4 linked regions of the Homo sapiens genome follow. The protein of the gene in region 3 interacts with the protein of the main gene of each other region in a biochemical or structural test. Each region holds a gene or a part of one and is shown on either strand. Other genes may lie near its edges.

Evidence for each region.
Region 1: the proteins of PRKCA (region 3) and HTRA4 interact in a test that uses a peptide from one of them, tested with the Homo sapiens proteins (one large-scale study listed by IntAct).
Region 2: the proteins of PRKCA (region 3) and PPP1R14A form a complex in vitro, tested with the Homo sapiens proteins (one study listed by BioGRID).
Region 4: of the proteins of PRKCA (region 3) and NF2, one has a biochemical effect on the other in vitro, tested with the Homo sapiens proteins (one study listed by BioGRID).

What each region holds. Positions count from the first base shown.
Region 1 is NC_000008.11:38,977,228-38,980,727, reverse strand, and holds part of HTRA4 (serine protease HTRA4 precursor), read right to left. Parts: intron 2,776-3,500; coding exon 2,581-2,775; intron 1,514-2,580; coding exon 1,481-1,513; intron 770-1,480; coding exon of another isoform or gene 737-769; exon of another isoform or gene 243-736; intron 1-242. UniProt on the Homo sapiens protein: Serine protease.
Region 2 is NC_000019.10:38,253,575-38,257,619, reverse strand, and holds the start of PPP1R14A (protein phosphatase 1 regulatory subunit 14A), read left to right. Parts: upstream 1-1,245; 5' UTR 1,246-1,280; coding exon 1,281-1,481; intron 1,482-4,045. UniProt on the Homo sapiens protein: Inhibitor of PPP1CA. Has over 1000-fold higher inhibitory activity when phosphorylated, creating a molecular switch for regulating the phosphorylation status of PPP1CA substrates and smooth muscle contraction.
Region 3 is NC_000017.11:66,732,613-66,736,112, forward strand, and holds part of PRKCA (protein kinase C alpha type), read left to right. Parts: intron 1-75; coding exon 76-213; intron 214-2,876; coding exon 2,877-3,050; intron 3,051-3,500. UniProt on the Homo sapiens protein: Calcium-activated, phospholipid- and diacylglycerol (DAG)-dependent serine/threonine-protein kinase that is involved in positive and negative regulation of cell proliferation, apoptosis, differentiation, migration and adhesion, tumorigenesis, cardiac hypertrophy, angiogenesis, platelet function and inflammation, by directly phosphorylating targets such as RAF1, BCL2, CSPG4, TNNT2/CTNT, or activating signaling cascade involving MAPK1/3 (ERK1/2) and RAP1GAP.
Region 4 is NC_000022.11:29,676,633-29,680,132, forward strand, and holds part of NF2 (merlin), read left to right. Parts: intron 1-1,563; coding exon 1,564-1,691; intron 1,692-3,500. UniProt on the Homo sapiens protein: Probable regulator of the Hippo/SWH (Sav/Wts/Hpo) signaling pathway, a signaling pathway that plays a pivotal role in tumor suppression by restricting proliferation and promoting apoptosis.

The DNA of each region.
Region 1 (3,500 bases), on a different chromosome or scaffold from region 3:
CTCACTGTGTTGCCCAGGCTGGAGTGCATTGGTGCAACCTTGGCTCATTGCAACCTCTGCCTCCCGGGTTCAAGCGATTCTCCTGCCTCAGCCTCCCAAGTAGCTGGGATTACAGGCGCATGCCACCATGCCCAGTTAATTTTTTTTTTTTTTTGTATGTTAGGTAGAGATGGGGTTTCACCATGTTGGCCAGGCTGGTTTTGAACTCCTGACCTCAGGTGATCCACCCACCTCAGACTCCCAAAGTGCTGGGATTACAGGAGTGAGCCACCGTACCCAGCCAGAAAAGAGATTTCTGATTGTGTTAAACTACAGATTGTAATTCAGTAGGTCGGGGGTATGGCCTGAAATTCTGCATTTCATCCCTGCTCTAGTAAACTCATTGTCTAATGGAGAAGGCAGGAACAAAACAAAGAAAAATGACATGCAATGCTATGAGTAAAAAAAAAAAAACAATCATTTTGCATAAAATTCATTCTAAAAGCAAATGTAATATTTAAACAGGAACCAAAAGCAATCAGTGCAAAGGGACTCAGAAAGGATGATCACATGCTATGTGTCAAACAGCATTGCACTCTCTTAGGTTTTCACATGTATTTGGGCAACTAGAAACCCTGACATTTCCACTAGAGACACGGAATACAATTTAAGAATACATGACACGGCAATGTATTTGAGAGGCCAAGGCAGGCAGCTCACTTGAAGTCAGGAGTGCTGGTTGTGGCTTTTCTCTCATCTATAAGCAGGTCAAGAGGTCAAGACTAAAAACCTGGACAGATGACATTATGTAATTAGCATTTTTAAATGAGAGATAGTTCTTCATATGCAGCATCAAGGAGTCTTCAAGGACCTACATTTCATAGCAAAGCTGGTCATTTGGCATAAACCTGGGTTTAATATCCAGGGCTTTTGGCACAGCATGGTGGCTCATGCCTGTAATCCTAACACTTTGGGAGGCCAAGGCAGGAGGATCACTTGAACTCAGGAGTTTGAGACCAGCCTGGGCAACATAGTGAGACATCGTCTCTATTAAATAAATAAATAAATAAATAAAATCCAGGGCTTTGGGTAACTAGCCAATGAAAACAGAAAGCACGGGGAAGAGAGAAATTTCAAAGGAAGCCGGAGCTAGAACCCTAGTGTTCTCAGTGGGATGAGATCACACACCAGGATAACAATCTTGAATTTTTTCTAACTATTGACTTAAGGTCCAAGAACAGAAAAGCACCATTCCACAGCTCTCTACACAAGAGTGGCACCCAAGTCTGCATCATGGAATATGTAAAGTCCTTTTTTGTTTTTGTTTTTGTAGATATGGTGTCTTGCTGTCTTGCCCAGGCTAGTCTCAAACTCCTGGCCCCAAGCAGTCATCCCAAATGTGCTGGGATTACAGGCATGAGCCACCACCCCTGGCCTGGAATTAATAAAGTCTTTGAAAGTTAAGAAGAAACATGAAGCAACAAGGAAAGTGATCACTTACCAAGTTCACCAGAGGACCACCAGAATTCCCATACTAAAAGCAGAATTTGAAAAAGACATCAGTGAAGCTAATGAATACATTCCCCCTTGTCCTTTACACATAGCTCCCAAAACAGTTTACCAAAAGCAGCCCACCAAGCTCCTATTCCCCCCAGGCCGGCAAAATTGTGCCCCTATCATCACCAATACCAAAGTCAGTGTAGGTAAAGAACTATAGCAGTGGGACCACCACCTTCATTTTTTTTTTTTTTTTTTGAGACGGAGTCTTACTCTGTTGCCCAGGCTGGAATGCAATGGCGCAATCTCGACTCACTGCAACCTCTGCCTCCCGGTTCAAGTGATTCTCCTGCCTCAGCCTGCTGAGTAGCTGGGATTACAGGCACCCGCCACCATGCCCAGCTAATTTTTGTATTTTTAGTAGAGACAGGGTTTCATCATGTTGGCCAGACTGGTCTCGAATGCCTGACCTCATGATCCACCCCCTTCGGCCTCCCAAAGTGCTGGGATTACAGGCATGAGCCACCGTGCCTGGCCAAGGGACCACCACCTTCTTACAGGAGGGGTGACCTCTACAACAGACCACCTAATAGCATGGATGCCAGCGATCACAGCGAACGAGACAGACTCTAACAAAGTGGCATTCCATTCCTCCCACAGTGATTCAACCAAACCTGGACATCCCCAAAGTTCACTCTGACATATTCTTCTCACTGAACTGCCAATATTGTGTGATCTGAGGAAAGGCCTCCTAAGTCAGCAATCCCCAAACTTTTTGGCACAGGGACCGGCTTTGTGGAAGACAATTTTTCCACAGACGGAGGGGTGGTTTGGGATGAAACTGCTCCACCTCAGATCATCGGGCATGAGTTAGATTCTATAAGGAACATGCAATCCAGATCCCTTGCATGCGCAGTTCACAATAGGGTTTGCACTCCTATGAGAATTTAATGCCGCCACTGATCTGACAGGAGGTGGAACTCGGGCAGTCATTCTCACTCGCCCATGGCTCACAGCCTGCTGTGCGGCCCAGTTCCTAACAGGCCATGGACCTGTACTGGTCCACAGCCCATGGGTTGGGCACCTCTGTCCTAAGTGACTTACATTAATTGTGGCATCAATCTGGACGTAGTCCATATCTGAATCCTTCATCCCCAGTTCTTTGCCCCCTCGCTGTTTGGTGCTGACAATTCCTGCAGTAGCTGTGTTCTGCAGAGAAAATGGGCTGCCCAAAGCCACCACAAACTCTCCAGCCCGAAGGTCAGATGATCTTCCCAGCATCAGTACAGGAAGTTCAGCCTGCACGTGCCCAAAAAGGGATGGGGAGGACAGAAAGGGTAAAGAACAAATCACGATCAGAATTGACCAAAGTGTGTGTCTAACACATATATGACGCTGTCTCTATCACCTTGGCCCTTACCACCTGAGAAGCACCCACTCACACAGCTTCTATGATTGCCTTCTACTTCTTCCTCAAAGTCCAACTACCATGAAGCTCTTGAGTGTTAAGATGACTAGGATCATTTCTAAGATCTAAAACAATTACTTTGTAGAAATTACTATTAGTAAACAGCCAGTGAAGTCACTGATGAACATAAACTGACATTAGGAATTTACACAGCACCATTCCAGCTCAAAGCTTAACAGTCAAAGTGAATAAGCCACAAACAGAAAGGAGATCACCCAGGGTGACACTTCTCACACTGTAATGTGCATGCAAATCACCTAGGGATGTTATGTTAATGCAGATTCTGAGTCAGCACATCTATCTGGGTAAAGGCTGAGACTCTGAACTTCTAAAAAGCTCTCAGACACCATGTCAATATATGTGATGTGCAGACTACCAGTACTATGTGTAGGAAGGACTTCAAAGTATTCCTTAGCAACTTTGAGTCCATCGCAGTAATTTCTGATATCCTAAGACAAGTAGAGAAATAATTTTCCCTGAAGCAGCATTTGTTGAAGGAGGAAAAAAAAAAAAAAAAGACTGCTTGATAGTTAATAGAAACAGTTAGAGGCCAAGC
Region 2 (4,045 bases), on a different chromosome or scaffold from region 3:
TCTCCTGCCTCAGCCTTCCGAGTAGCTGGGATTACAGGCATGTGCCACCAGGCCCAGCTAATTTTTGTATTTTTAGTAGAGATGGAGTTTCACCATGTTGGCCAGGCTGGTCTTGAACTCCTGACCTCGTGATCCACCCTCCTTGGCCTCCCAAAGTTCTGGGATTACAGGAGTGAGCCACTGCGCCCAGCCACATTTAAATTTTAGAGTATAATTATTGCTGCTTATAATTAGAAGTGAGAAGACTGTTTTGAAGTAAGGGACTTCCCTGGCCACCCTCGCTAAAATTGCAACCTTACCCTCACTCCATTTCTCCTTCTCTGCTTTATATTTCTCCAAAGCACTTATATGATAATAAACTGTATAATACCGTACTTACTGTGTTTCTCATGTATCCCGGCTACAACTGTCAACTGCGTGGGACTGGTTTTGTCTGTTTTGTTCCCTGCTCTATCCCTGGAGCGTAAAGCAGTGTCTGGTATAGAGTGGATACTTAATAGATATTCGTTGAACCGGGCCAGTGGCGGTGGCTCACGCCTGTAATCCCAGCACTTTGGGAGGCGGAGGCAGGCAGATCACTTGAGGTCAGGAGTTCGAGGCCAGCCTGGCCAACATGGCGAAATCCCGTCTCTACTAAAAATACAAAAATTAGCCGGGTGTTGTGGTGCATCCCTGTAATCCCAGCTACTTCGGAGGCTGAGGCAGGAGAATCGCTTGAACCTGGGAGGCGGACGTTGCGGTGAGCCGAGATCGCGCCATTGTACTCCAGCCTGGGCGACAAAGAGAGACATCGACTCAAAAAAAAAAAAATTCGTTGAACGGAATGAGTGAACAAACAAATGGATGGATGAGTGAATGAATGAACGAAGGAACAAGTGACCGCTCGACCTTCTACAGCGACAGCGGCGCAGGCGCTCCCGCACCAACAGCCCCCCACCCCGCCACCGCCAGAGGGCGCAGACAGGCCGGGTCCCGAGTGTCTGTCCCAGGCCCCCGCCCCACAGGATCCCGGCCCGGGAGCCCCCGATGCAGGGACCCGCCCGGGACTCTGGGTCCCCGCCCATACCTCAACTTCGCACGACTGCGTGCCTCAAGCCGACGCAGCGGCCTACTCTCGCACTGCAGACGGGGAAACTGAGGCCTGAGGCGGCCGGGGTGGGGCAGACCTCCCGGCGAGCCCGAGCCCCCGCCCCCGGCTAGCCCCGCCCTGGCCCGTAAGAAGCACCCGGGGCGCGAGGCGAAGGCGCACAGCGCGGGGCCAGGCTGGGTCCAGCAGCGCGATGGCAGCTCAGCGGCTGGGCAAGCGCGTGCTGAGCAAGCTGCAGTCTCCATCGCGGGCCCGCGGGCCAGGGGGCAGTCCCGGGGGGCTGCAGAAGCGGCACGCGCGCGTCACCGTCAAGTATGACCGGCGGGAGCTGCAGCGGCGGCTGGACGTGGAGAAGTGGATCGACGGGCGCCTGGAGGAGCTGTACCGCGGCATGGTGAGCCCGGGGAGGGCTCGGGGGTGGTCGGGGACAGATAGAGCCCGGGCGCGGAGACCCCACGCCCTTGGGGTCTCGGTGCACACTCGCTGGTGCACGGCCAGCCTGGTCTGCACAAGAGGACGAGCGCCCCAGGGCCGGGCACTCATTGGCCTGGCCATCCGTGCTCTATGGCATTGTGCTTGTGGACACACCGAGAGCAACACACAAAGACTTGGGTCTCCAGAGATGTGTCCAAACGCCTGTGGAGGGCCAGGGGTTTAGCATGAGGAGGGAGGAGGCTAAGTTGAGCTGAAACCGCCACGTCTGGAGAAAGAGTGGGGGAAGGGGGGTGTCATAAAGCCAAACACAGACATGGTGACAGGGGAGATACAGCCACACAGAGACCCACGGCAAAGGAAGCAAAAGCAGACACAGATGTGCACAGTGAAGGAAGCTATAGCCACTCACGGACACAGCCCAGAAGTAACAGCCATGCACAAACCCACAAGGACACAAGCGGGGGCTGGGGGGGGGTCACCTACAGTTCAACATATGCTACAGTCACAGCCACCCGCAGACACAGCGGCATGGGCCACAGCCGTAGGCAGACACAGCACAACCCCACTGGAACACAAAATGACTCAAGTTACGGCCCTTCCTTATCTCCTAAAGAAAAAACTGACCACCTTCAAGCACAAGCGCTGATCCGCAGCCACTCAAAGACATAAAACAACAGAAATTGGCCCAGCACAGTGGCTCACGCATTTTGTGAGGCCGGGGCAGGAGGATTGCTTGACGTCAGGAGTTCAACACCAGCCTGGGCAACATGGGGAAAACCTGTCTCTACCAAAAATCTTAAAACTTAGCCGGGCGTGGTGGCATGCACGCACTTGTAATCTCAGCTCCTCAGGAGGCTGAGGTGGGAGGATTGCTTGAGCCTGAGAGGCCAAGGTCACAGTGAGCCAAGATTGCACCACTGCACTCCAGCCTGGGCAACAGAGCGAGACCGTGTCTCAAAAACAAACAAAACCCAACAGAATTTATAACTACACCCAGACATAAAACTGTGTAAGCACCGGGCACGGTGGCTCACGCCTGTAATCCCAGCACTTTGGGAGGCCGAGGCGGGCGGATCACCTGAGGTCAGGAGTTTGAGACCAGCCTGATCAACATGGAGAAATCCCGTCTCTACTAAAAAATACAAAATTAGCCGGGTGTGGTGGCACATGCCTGTAATCCCAGCTACTCGGGAGGAGAATCGCTTGAACCCGGGAGGAGGAGGTTGCGGTGAGCCGAGATCCCGCCATTGCCCTCCAGCCTGGGCAACAAGAGCGAAACTCCGTCTCAAAAACAAACAAACAAACAAAAAACTGTAAGCTATAGGAACAGGTGGACATACAACTGCAGAACCCACCGCTGCTCACAGGCACACAAGAGCCTAAGCCACAGCTACATGTATTGACACACACAGGTACTTCATCACTTGAGTTTCTGCTTGAAGTCACACTTTCAGTGACTTCTTTTTTCTTTTCCTTAGAGGTGGGGCCTCATTGGCCGAGCACAGTGGCTCACGCCTGTAATCCCAGAACTTTGGGAGGCCAAGGTGGGCAGATCACTTGAGGTCAGGAGTACGAGACTAGCCTGGCCAACATGGTGAAACCCTGTCTCTACTAAAATTACAAAAATTAGCCGGGCATGGTGGCAGGCAGCTGTAATCCCAGCTACTTGGGAGGCTGAGGCAGGAGAATCACTTGAACCCGGGAGGCGGAGGTTGCAGTGAGCCAAGATCGCGCCATTGTACTCCACCCTAGGTGACAGAAGGAGACTTTGTCTCAAAAAAAAGAAAAAAGAAAAAGAGATGGGGCCTCGCTATGTTGCTCAGGCTGATCTTGAACTCCTAGGCTCAAGCAATTCTCTCTTGTCGGCCTCCCAAAATGTCAGGATTACAGGCGTGAGCCACTGCGCCTGGCCTTCTGTGACTTCTGTATGCTACAGTGTACACAGGACCCACGAGTCCTCCTCTTCATGGTGCGACAATGGTGGAAGGCATGGCCCTTCTCCCATGGTGACATGCAGTCCCTCTGTTCTCAGACTCACACCTGGGCCCATACAGGTGAACCAATCTGGTTGCTAGTGGCAGGTGGCATCTATGAGGCCATTCTCAGGTGGTGGGCCCCACAGCTGACTGTGGACACATGCTGATGTGTCACACACCCAAGCCAGAGCCACACACCTCACACCTGCAGGACCACAGTCCACTATACGAAGCCACTGCACGATGCCAGGTCCCTCTGCATCCTCGGCCAGCCCCAGGCCCTTGGCATCAGGCTGTGGCCCTGGCAGAGACTCACACACCTGTGTCCTTGCTGAAGCCCCTTCACCACACATGAACCAGGACCATCCAGCCCTGAAGCCCCAGGCCTGAAGCCGACAGCCGGACTTTGGGTTGGGGAGGAAAGGATTCATAACCCCAAGGCTCTCTTGCTCCCTCGACAGCTGGGGACAGCTGGGTCCTATTCCCAGCAGGGGTACTGAGCCAGCCTGCGCTTGGGCCACTGCCTGTAGAGGCCACACTCAGCGCC
Region 3 (3,500 bases):
TACAACACGGTGGTTTCTGTCACTCTTTCCCCAGAAAAATGACCCACGTGTTTCCCATTTGTGCTTGTTATTTAGAAAGCCAAACTTGGCCCTGCTGGCAACAAAGTCATCAGTCCCTCTGAAGACAGGAAACAACCTTCCAACAACCTTGACCGAGTGAAACTCACGGACTTCAATTTCCTCATGGTGTTGGGAAAGGGGAGTTTTGGAAAGGTAAGAGGACAGTCGTCTGCAAATTGCAGGGGCTTCTGCAGAGAATGTCGAATCAGTTTTGTTCTCCTCGTAGTTTGCAGAATAGCACATTAGATTTCCCTGTGATTCAAGGTCAGGAGATCAAGACCATCCTGGCTAACACGGTGAAGCCCCATCTCTACTAAAAATACAAAAAATTAGCTGGGCATGGTGGTGGGCGCCTGTAGTCCCAGCTACTTGGGAGGCTGAGGCAGGAGAATGGCGTGAACCTGGGAGGCGGAGCTTACAGTGAGCCGAGATCGCACCACTGCACTCCAGCCTGGGAGACAGTGAGACTCCGTCTCAAAAAAAAAAAAAAAAAAAGATTTCCCTGTGATTTGTACAGTCATCCAGAAGACCACCAGGATGGCTAAATGGTAGAAAGGAGAGGTTTATTGGTGGTATCAGTTTGCAAACCCATAAAAGAAAGTCTATGGTGTGAAATGAAGGTGCCCTCTCTTTGAGGAGAGAAAGGGCAGGTTGGGTTTTATGCCTCACAGGGTCCATGTTACACAGTAGAGTCATCCATATTCAACAGGTTTGGGGGGAAAGCTTGACTTATCTGTGAGGGAAGCCTAGCACAGGCACAATGGATGAACATATATGTAACATGCATCTTATGTTCACTTTGGGGTGGGGACTTAGCATTAAAATGAGGTGGAATTTGCCTAGGCATGGTGGCTCATGCCTGTAATCCCAGTACTTTGGGAGGCCAAGGCAGGTGGACCACTTGAGGTCAGGAGTTTGAGACCAGCCTGGCAAAAATGGTGAAACCCCATCTCTACTAAAAATACAAAAATTAGCTGGGTGTGGTGGTGTGCACCTGTGATCCCAGCTACTCGGGAAGCTGAGGCAGGAGAATCGCTGGAACCTGGGAGGTGGAGGTTGCAGTAAGCCAAGATCATGCCACTGCACTCCAGCCTGGGCAACAGAGGGAGACTCCGTCTCAAAAAAAGTAAATAAATAAAAAAAGGTGGAAGTTGGCTCTTTAGATCAAAAGGTGAACCACAGGACCCAAAAACAGTTTGTGTGCAGGCTCTGCAAGCTGCTGAAACTGGCTTCAGGTCTGCAGTTGCATCACAGAAAAGAATGTTTGTAAGGCCAGTTCTCTGTCCAGTCCAAGTCATAGTGATCTGAGTTGTCAATCAAAGTTAGGAGGGGCCTGATAGCTCCTACTGCTAGGGAGTTTAGCGAGAGTGGTTTATCTTGTAGCTGTAGGGATTTAGAAATTTGCCATGCCAGCTGGGCCCTGAACCCTCAACCCATAGATAACTATTTCCTTAACTTTAATGTTACCAGAAAGGGGTCCTGATCCAGACCCCAAGAGGAGGGTTCTTGGACCTCAAGCAAGAAAGAATTCAGAGCGAGTCCACAGAATAAAGTGAAAGTCAGTTTGTTAGAGAAGTAAAGAAATGAAAGAACAGCTACTCCATAGGCAGAGCAGCAGCATGGGCTGCTTGACTGAGTATACTTAGAGGTATTTCTTGATCGTATGCTAAACAAGGGTTTTATTATTCATGAGTTTTCTGGGAAAGGGGTGGGCAATTCCCAGAACTGAGGCTTCCTCCATCTTTTAGACTATATAAGGTAACTTCTGGGCATTGCCATGGCATTTGTAAACTGTTGGGGTGCTGGTGGGAGTGTCTTTTCACATGCTAATAATGCATATAATGAGCAATGAGGGTAGCCAGAGGTTATTCTCATCGCCATCTTGGATTTGGTGCGTTTTGGCTGGCTTCTTTACTGTATCCTGTTTTATCAGCAGGGTCTTTCTGACCTGTGTCTTGTGATACTAGCCCTGCTGACCTCCTATCTCATCCTGCGACTAAGAATGCCTGACCTCCTGGGAATGCGGCCCAGCAGATCTCAGCCTTATTTTTCCCATCCCTTATTCAAGATGGAGTCACTCTGGTTCAAATGCCTGCGACATTAGGGTCCATCTTAGTCGCTAAAGAGGCATTTATTTGGTCTCTCAGATCAGAGTGCACAGTCCTCACCTGGTTTCTACTTCCTTAAAAGCAACTGCATCCAAAAAGCTATAGTGGGTTCACTGTGTTGTTACTATTTCTCAGTGTTCAGAACAGAAGGGATGCTCAGAAATGCTGGTTGATGAATAGTTTTCACAACTAAAAATTAAATGTTCACTTGTAGTAAGCAAATACAATCATTAAGAGATACTGACATGGGGTCTTCAGCAATTTGCCTGTATCTCCATTCGGTTTCTGTGGCCCCACATTTCATAGACGCAGGAACTGATTTCAAGTCTAGGTTCTTGACTTGAGAGATTATAAATGTCAGTCAGCTTTCACTCTAAGGATACTCCTGAAAAATGTGCATTATTCCAGACTAATCCTGATAGAGAATGTTGAGTATTCATTTTAGCAGCCAAAATAGTGCCATTATGTGGCAGTGGCCTATACCATTTACAAATCTTGGCAGCATTGAAGTTTTGCAAATGCTGGAGGGACTGAATTTGTAGTGATGTGTAGAATTTACAAATTTGCACATAAAGTTTAATATTTTTATGTTCCACATTGACAAAGGTGCACAAACTGTCACTGAGCCGTCACCTGGCCTGGTTCCTTCCCTCTGCCCCCCAAGATATGTGCTTACAAGTGTTCAGGTTGTTCTTGACGTGTTCTCAGGTGATGCTTGCCGACAGGAAGGGCACAGAAGAACTGTATGCAATCAAAATCCTGAAGAAGGATGTGGTGATTCAGGATGATGACGTGGAGTGCACCATGGTAGAAAAGCGAGTCTTGGCCCTGCTTGACAAACCCCCGTTCTTGACGCAGCTGCACTCCTGCTTCCAGACAGTGGTAAGGACCCTGGGAATCCCTGCGATGCAGTACCCAGCTCTCAGAGCTACGCCTCAGCCCAAAGCTTCTTAGCATCCTTGTTCCTTTGGAGAAGGCTGGAGAAAGGTGTGTTGTGATGTCAAGCAGAGGTGACTGGGGACCACCTCCCACCTCTCTCACTGGTAGATTTGGGGCATGCCTTCTCTGTGATGTCCTCTGCTTGGCATTCATGCCATTTAATTCGGCAAACATTTCTTTTTCTTTTTCTTTCTTTCTTTCTTTTTTTTTTTTTTTTTTGAGACAGGATCTCACTCTCTCGCCCAGGCTAGAGTGCAGTGGCACAGTCACGGCCCACTGCAGTCTCAAGTAGTTGAGACCACAGATGTACCCCACCACACTCAGCTAATTTTTGTATTTTTAGTAGAGACGGGGGTTTCACCATGTTTCCCAGGCTGGTCTTAAACTCCTGAG
Region 4 (3,500 bases), on a different chromosome or scaffold from region 3:
TCATGGATGAGTATTTAGTCTGTTTTCTTTTGCAATTTTGAACAAAATGACACTGAACATCCCTGAACACAAATCTTGACACACACACGTGGATATATTGGTAGAATAAATTCTTATAATAGAACTGTGGGGTCAAATTTTCGATTTTGATACTCTCCAAAGAAGTCATACCAGTTCATGCTCTCACTAGTGGTGCAGCAACTAGTACGCGTTTTTGCTGAAAATTTTTATGATGTGTAACATACACATAGAGAAGTGCCCAAATTACAACTGTACAGTTTGAAGAATTTTCACAAACTGAACATACCCATGTACCCAGCACCCAGATCAGAAAACAGGACATCCCTGGCACCCAAGGAGCCTTCTCTCAGCACCCTTGCAGACGGTCTGCCTCAGGCCTTGAGAATGTCTCAAATGAATGTTCCAAGCCTCTGCTCTTTCCCAGACACTGTCCTAGACTCAATACGGGATCCAAGGATGAAAAAGAGGCAGATTGTTTGCAGGAAACTTGCAAATAGTAGAAAGAAGATACAGCCAAAAAGAAATCTTTTACAGGGTGGAATCGCAGAAGAACCATTAGAGAACCGTAAACACAGCGTTAAGGGACAGCAAAGAAAAGGGTTGCCGGCTGGCTGGGAGGGGCTAGAAAGGCTTTGGTGAGAGATCGTGGTGTTTGAGAAGGGCCTTGAAAGAGGGATGGAGCATAGGGAGGAGAAATGGGATAGGCAGGGGTACAGAGATGGGAAGGCAGTAGTCCAGGGGATAATAAACAATACTGTCTGTGACTTAGTAGGGCAAATAGTAGGAGAAGCCGGGAAGCTAGATTGGGGTCCTCTTTAGATGACCCTTTGTGCTGGGATGAAAGTCCAAAAAAAAAAAAAACTACACCACCCCTGCTTCAGGCCCTACTCCGGTTCCATTGTCCAAGCCCAAGCCCCTCGGTGGGCCGGTGGGGAGCCCTTTGTGGTGGTGCCCATCTCCCACCCCACCTCTCCACACTGCATGGCAGACTCCTGGCACCCTCACTGGGCACTGCCCCACCCATTGCCATACTTCCCGTCCGGCAGACCTTCTCCTGGCACTGCCTTGGATCCCAGCAAAAGCAGCATCTCTTCTAGCCTCTGTTCGCTCCCTGGCTACAGTGTTTACCTTTTTTAACAGTGATGATCTGTGAACACATCTATTTCCTGAACAAGACTTTCAGCTGCTCAAAGCCAAGGATGCTGTCTTGTTTTCTGCATCTCCAGCCCCTTGCACAGGGCCTGGGAGTTTCCTAAATGAAAAAGCGAGTGGGAGTTTGTGTTTGATTCAGCTGAGCATGAAGAACGGTTAGAGATTTGAGGGATGATTTTCCTGGATTTGTAGTCTTTGATATTGTTTACCTGGCAGTGGCAAATGTGGAGGGAGTGAAGTGGAGGGATGGGGACTCGTGGTGGCATTGGGAGGTGGGACCCGAGTTGTGCCCATTGCCTCTGTGGCTGCTGGAGGATCGGTTGTCAACACAGTAGTGTCCTTCTGTGCTTGTATGACCCAAGCTCCTAATCCGAAATTTCTCATTAACAGCCCATGAACCCAATTCCAGCACCGTTGCCTCCTGACATACCAAGCTTCAACCTCATTGGTGACAGCCTGTCTTTCGACTTCAAAGATACTGACATGAAGCGGCTTTCCATGGAGATAGAGAAAGAAAAGTATGTAGCCCCCTGTGCCCTGCTGTGGGCAGCTGTGAACTAGACTGAGTGATTGGGGCCTTGGGAAGCTGGGGCAGAGGTGAGAGGTCGCTGCAGCAGCCTGTCATTACTCCTGCAAAGGTTTGCTCTGCTCTTACACCCTGGAGGAAGAATTTCCTTAATCAGAAATTAAGGACAACAGATCAGCATTCATTCTGAACGAATAAAAATAACAATTTTTATCCAGGATAAAAATAACACTTGACTGGTGAGCTGGAGTTTTTGGTGGCTCTAAGCCTCACCTAAAGTGTAGGACTGGGTTGTTAGCATCTCTGAGTCAGTTCAACTGCTGTTATACTACTGGACTGTAGTCACCTCCTAGTTGTGTTCTCCAGCAACTGGGATCTGTGGTGGTTCCCATGTCTAGAACAAACAAAGGTGAGAGAAGAGACTCAGGCTCGAGGCTAAGGAAAGCTGACAGCTGGTGGGGCCACTTTGCTGCAGTGGGTGGCACTGGGCAGGGCCCCAGCATGGCCTGATCATGGCAGCAATTGCTGAGCTGCCCTCCGTCTTCCCTTTATTGTGGGTAGAAGTGGATCAGAGATGGAAAGGAAAGGATCCCCACTGCAGAGGAAATCTAAGCGAGGGCCCCTAGTTCCCAGAGCTAGCGGTAAGTTGGTTAACTGCTGCTGCTTGCTAGAGGACAACCACAGTAGCTACCATGCATTGAGTGCCTGTGTGTCAGGGGTTTTGGCTTTTGTCTCATTTAATTCCTGCTAACTTACAAACATCAAAATGACATCAAAGGTAGGTTTTCATGTTCCCATTTTATAAGTGAGAACTCAGATTTAGAGAGTTTAGTGAACTCCACCAGCATCCCACAGCTGATGCAGAGGGGTTGAAACCCCTCACCCATCTGACTCTGCAGCCCATGTGCTTTTACCATGGGTGGTATCCTCAGGAAAACCCTTTGGGGAAAGTGTCTCCATGGAGTCCAGTATGGGCAACCAGAACCCAGGCTGTTTTTCTTTGGGCTCTCACACTGAGGGTATAGCTAAGTAGCCAATGAACCAGAGCCTCTAGCTGTCATATCTGCTGTCCATGTTCCTTTCACCATTATCCAGACATATACATTTATGTGGTTGGGATCCGGGATCAGGGTGAAGCTGTTCTGTGTCTGCTATTTTATAGTTTGTATTTTGTTACTATCTTAGTTTGTTTTGGCTACTGTAACAAAATACCAGAGGCTGGGTAGCTTATAAACAACAGAAATTTATTTCTTGGCCAGGCACAGTGGCTCATGCCTGTAATTCCAGCACTTTGGGAGTCCAAGGGGGGCAGATCTCTTGAGCCAGGAGTTCAAGACCAGCCTGGGCAACATGGCAAAACCCCATTTCTACTAAGAATACAAAAATTAGCTGGGTGTGGTGGCACATGCCTGTGGTCCCAGCTACTCGGGAGGCTGAGGTGGGAGGATTGCTTGAGCCTGGGAGGCAGAGGTTGCAGTGAGCCCAGATTGCACCACTGCACTCCAGCCTGGGCAACAGAGAGACACCCTGTCTCAAAAAAAAAAAAAAGAAAAGAAAGAAATTGATTTCTCACAGTTTGGGAGGCTGAGAAGGCCAAGATCAAGGCACGGGCAGAGGTGGAGTCTAGTGAGGGCATTCTTGCTGGTTCATAATCAGCCCCTTTTTGCTGCATGCTCACCCAGTGGAAGGGATGAGGGGTCTCTCTGGAGTCTCTTTTATAAGGGCACTAATCCCATTCATGAGGCTCTACCCTCATGACTGCCCAAAGGCCCCACCTCCTGACACTTTTTTTTTTTTTGAG